Linked DNA regions of Homo sapiens: region 1 is linked to region 2. The links come from fine-mapping of genetic effects on gene expression. Tissue or cell type: blood mononuclear cells. Region 2 holds a variant in brackets; the other region holds the start of a gene. All regions are shown on one strand. Distances are from middle to middle.

What was found.
Region 1: CYTIP starts here. The variant in region 2 is fine-mapped to the expression of CYTIP in blood mononuclear cells (TOPMed, PIP above 0.99).

Annotation. Positions count from the first base shown.
Region 1 is chr2:157,442,817-157,445,858 of GRCh38, forward strand. CYTIP (cytohesin 1 interacting protein) reads right to left here and starts at 1,273. Exons shown (of 8, transcript NM_004288.5): 1 at 1,031-1,273. The coding sequence starts at 1,204. RefSeq lists enhancers at 934-1,033, 1,074-1,123.
Region 2 is chr2:157,412,932-157,415,431 of GRCh38, forward strand. CYTIP (cytohesin 1 interacting protein) reads right to left here. Exons shown (of 8, transcript NM_004288.5): 8 at 1,688-2,500. Among named protein-coding and RNA genes, the nearest start is that of CYTIP, 30 kb to the right of the region's middle. RefSeq lists an enhancer at 771-820. The variant A/G (reference allele first, on the strand shown) is at 1,517.

The sequences.
Region 1 (3,042 bases), 30 kb after region 2:
GAATTTAGAAGGCTTACGAGAAGCACATGATTGTACATGCAAGACTTAAGCGCAAAAATTCTTGCTCTAGGGCAATTCTAAATATTTTCTGTAGAAATGCTACATCGAAATTCAAATATGTACCTGGGGATTTAGAGCAAGTTGTTTAAAAAAAATCCTGAAGAGGTATTATGGTTAAAAAAAAATTTTTACATGTTAGAAATTGAAGAACGAAAAAATCAAAATAAATTCAGTTAGACATAGATTTTTCCAAATGAGTTTTCATCCCTAGAGACAAACTTTGCAATAAAAATATTAAAATGGCATAATCTAGCATTTAATAAACACACACTGAATGCCAGTCACTGTGTTAGGCACTGCACAGTTCCTTATTTAACCAACATAAGAACCCAATAAGGGTGGTTCTATTATTAACTCCATTTTAGAAAAAACAAAACTGAAGCTTAGAGAGGCAAGTGGCTTGCTCAAGATCCCACAGACACTAAGTGGTGAGCTGATATTCAATCTGGCACTCATCTATCCAAAAAAAAAAAATCTTACTTTCCAATAGCCTGAGGTATGTGCCAGCAACCCAGAGCTGAAGATAATTAGTCAACAAAATTTGTCCTCAGAAAAAGTATTTCTTATTTGATTATGAACTGAAATGACCATCAAGGACTGCAAGTAAGGATGGAAGGGAAAGAATCAGTGGAGACACAATGGGGAAAAGAGAATTAATTCTCATACTGGTTGTATCTATATAAACCATCTTCAAGTTTTTTATGCTTAATGATGTTTATTTTACCTGAGCACTTCTTCAAATAAGAAAAACAATCTTAATTTTTGCCTTGAAAAAAAAGTTTGATTGTGGTCTCAAATCTTTGGACTGGTTCACCTAGCTCCCTGAGCATCTCACCTCCTTCACCCATAATAATCAGCCAGTAATTCCAAAGCCTCTAAAATATCACCATTAGTATGAAGTCAGACAAACATATCACTCTGCCCTCAAGAGAATGTGAACACTCTAAAGGGTACAAAATAGCAATCATACCTGCTTTCGTCCCCGAGGCAGAGTAGCCACCGTGTCTGCTAGCATTTGAATCCTTCTATTATCGTCCATCGTAAGGCTGCCGGTGAGTGTGGAGTAAGAGCTATACGCTGGCCCAGCGCAGAAGTCCGCCAAATTGCCATTGCTGCTGTGTTGCAGGAGCCTTTGTAAAGACATTGTGAATAAAGATCACTCCAGCTAGCACATGGTTGAGTGGCCTTGCAGGATGGGGGAAGCTAAAAGTACAACTGTGACAAGTAATCAAAAGTAGCAAAGCAGAAAGAGCCCATGTGACCTCTGTGGTTTGAGGAACTTGTTACACAAACCCTATCTTGCTATTCACTCCCATTTCTCAAAGCTTTTTTTCTTTAAGCTCCTGAGAGAACCTGGAGCTAATTTTTACAATTTAAAGAAAAATCAACTTATTTTTTCACCTCAAACAGCCAGAATTCTTACGCTTTTATGTTCTGTGGCAAGTTGCATTCACACCACCATTTGCCATTTTTTTCTTTAGAGAAGAAAGAAAAATGTCCCCAAGTGCTACCATTTGTTTCCCATCCATTCTCTTACTTAACATTAGCAATGCAATGCAGAAGTCAGCACACGAGGACATTCAGTTCTTGTGAATATGGGCAAGAATTACAGGTGCCGGTCATAATGTTCTCTCTCGAAGTCCTTGTAATACTGTACTTTCCCTGAAGTATACCCTAGATCATTAATGTTCATCAAAAAGACATTATATCTGCCACTGAGGTTGTAACCATTCAGCATTCTTCTGGTTGTCCTTTTACTACTTTGTCCTTACAAAAATTACCCATGATCTTTACAAAGTACAATGGGAAGGGAAAGCCAGCACATTTAGGGCACAATGTTGCCATTTCTTAGACGAGACTTTGCGGCAGCATCAGCAAGTGGTCCCAGGGGAGGAAAGGAGTGGGCAGGAAGGTAACAGGCAAACCAAGGTGGCACCAAGAACATTGCCTGTTGGTCCCTGCATGTGCATATGGGTCAAGGGCACCATCACCAAGTACTCAAGATCACAGATGCTTTTTTTTTTTTTCCTTTGGCTGAGGTTGGGGGCAGGTAGTTTTGAGAGAACTGGTTTCAGTGGAGGAGTAGGGGAGGCAAGTAAAAGGAAGAATCGAAACAAAAGTCAAAAAGAGAAGTTTTATATGGCACAAAAAGTCAAATGTGCTTTTTAAAATCTCTGAAGATCAATACTAGCATTTGAAAGAGTTAGCAAATCTTTGAACTAAAATGAAATGTGTGTGTACTGGAAGTGAAGATGAATTCAACTCAAGTAGAAATTGCCAAATATAAATAGTAAAATCTGAATTAATAGTGCTTCAAAAGTTGAAGCCAATTATAGATTTTAAAAACTCTATCACAGCATGACTCATTATACTGGAATTGAATTTTGACATGGACAAAGTGATATCACCACAAACATATAACGGTCTAAATCAGGAATTAAAAACACATACGTTTTCAGAAGCCAGGTAAGTAACATAAATGTGTAAGGCAAAAGGGAGTGGTAAATACCTTGGCAACTAAAGAATACATCAATTATAAAGATATTCACGTAAAATCTATATTTATAGATATGTACAGATATGTATACAGGTATATGTGGGGTGTGTGTGTGTGTGTGTGTGTGTGTGTGTGTGTATTAGGAAGACAGAGAGAGAGATTGATTTTAAAAACATTTTCAGGCTAAGAGGCACATAAATTAAATCATCACTATTAATGGATGACAGCAGTCCACTGTACCCTAGGAATCTGATAAAGTTAGGTAAATATTTTTAATTTTTATTCTTAATATTTTAAAATGCCAAATGGAAATTATACATTTGCTTAATATAAGGCCACCCACTCAGGCCAACTGACTCACCCATTTTTATAAATGACTACTAAAATTGTACCAATTCATTGTAATACTGACCTTAAGCTGATGTAAATCATAGATCATCATTCAATTAAGAAACTGGAAAATACTTATTACTTAACTCATGAAA
Region 2 (2,500 bases):
GTATGTATACATTCAAAAATGTCTGTACTTTGGTGATCAAGACACACATACTATTTCCAAGTTTGATCTATTCAGCGCAAACTGGGATTTTAAATGCTATCTGTATCTTAAGATATAAAATTATTACAAGGTAGAAAGTCATAAATAAAAGTTCACTTCCAAAAATATATTACTAATCTGTTTGTCATGGTTGTGTTCTTCAGCCACATGATAAAGTAATTCCCAATCTACTTGATTCAAATTTGGTTTATCAAATGCCCTTCTAGAAAAATGCATTTTCATAACAGGTTGTCAATTAATGGAATTCACCAGTAATACATATTTGAGAACTTTCAAGTTAAAAAAACACTTTTCAATTTTTTCCCTAGTAAATTATATCAGAATGAATCACTATGCACCAGAAGTTTCTTCTAAAGCCTGACTGAAGTCATAAATTAGTCTGAAAGTTATACTGTGAGAAATTTACCCACATTTCTACTAAACAAAAGCTAATTTTCTTACAGCTTGTGAAATATAGAACATGACATACCCTTCCTTCCTGTACTTTGGTTAACCAGTACTTTTTTCTTTATTCTCAGAACATACCTCGACTCTAATTCTTACCGCAAACTAAAGTGATGCTTGCTCCGTCCCTTCCCTGCCCCTTTTTTGCATTTGAGGTCTACTGTCATACAGCAGTGTTACACTTCTGTATTAAAATCACAAGAAAAGCAAATGATCTATGGTCTGCTTTCCCGTATGACCTATGTCATTCTGTGTAGTTCTCAAAGCATTTTTTCACCTTGTAGAAGATTTCAAAGTCATCTTTCCTCAAATAAATGTGGTGTTTCCTTCCCCTGGACTTTGTGAAATAGGATAACAAGAAATGCTGAATTCATATAAGTAGACCTTTAACAGGATGATTCTAGACTATGATGAGAAATAAGCAATACCAGTTGAATCATAACTGGTTTGCAAGCTCTTGTTGAAAATAAATGCACTGCTAATCATGTAGTTATTAAAGAACCTATGTCTGAAACTTGTATATGAGGAACAGAGAAATGTTTGTTTTCCTATTTACCCAAAGAAATGCTCTTATCTGTGCAGCATCTATAATTGTACATTTTAAGTATTCCTGTTGGGTGGAATAAAAAGTACTGTGATGATCACTAAACAGAACCAAAAGAGTAAAAGATATCTGGAATAGACTAGAGCAAGGAAGAACTGGCTTCCAATTTTAGCCCTGCCACTGACTAGCCTTGTGACCCTGAGAACATTTCCAAATTCCTGACTTGTTATCTGTATGCCTAACACCTACTATATAGTAATTGTGAGGATCATACGTAAAGTGTCTTTAGCCAACTAGGTACTCAGTAAATGGTAGACAGTATTGCTATCATTTCTGTGAAAGGTGTGACACCCTGCCTTTCATATGAGTGACTGTCATGCACAGGCCACTGGATGTTTCTCAGTTCAAAGAGTTAATAGAAGGCAAGTCCCAACTAGAAATCTTTTCATACTTTATCATTTCTTTCTC[A/G]TCTTAGATGCTTCCTTACCCTACCCTCTTTTATCTCAAAATAACTCATTTCTTAAGCAGAAGTTTAATTAAATTTAGCAGCTCTACTTAAATTGAAGTGTTTCTATTTCTCCCAAACACACACACACACGCACAGAGAGAGAGAGAGAGAGAGAGAGAGAGAGAGAGAACTTAAAATCAGCAGACTATTTATTACATAGTCCAGATTGTCTACTCTAGAATATAGGTTATGAATAGCTGTGCCACCAGAACAGAGAATTCATAGACTTCAATGGATATTAAATAAAACATGGAGTAATTGAAAGGCTAGAAGTAATGTGATACTAACATAACCAATAGGCAAAAGACTGCTGAGGTGATAGCTATTTAGAATATAAGATATAAAGTGAGAAGTAATATGAAAAAAACTACAGGAGGGAAGTCCTTTTCCCAACCCTCAGTTTTGGATGTTAGACATTTGTAGAAAAAAAATTACAAAGCTGTAGGATTCGGAGAGTTCTAGACTTGCCATTAATGTTCAGGCAGAACAAAAGCTGAATTGGGCAAAAAACACGACATCCCCACCCATTTTGTTTAGACTGTCTATAAAAATGACTTTATTATGATCTTTGCAGCACCCATCTCAGACCACATCTTTCCATGGTTCTCATGAACCTTAACCCCTCCTATTAAATCTTATACTTCCCGCTTTATTGTCACTATAGATGTGAGAAACAGCTGATGGTCATCTTTGTTTACAAGCCATTACAGGTTTGAACAAATTCAAAATTGCCTATTATTAAGCCTCCGCAGGAGCTACTGGGCATAAGCAAACCTAAGATTTTATAACCCAGCAATTATCCTATAGAAAATAGTCCAGATTATTATATTCTGCCACACCTTTATTCATACTTGACTCCAAAAAGTTCTCAATTATTCACAGGGATAATCTAGAAAATAAATATTAGTTTTGCTTTCAAAGACATTACTGGAATGAGCAGGAAC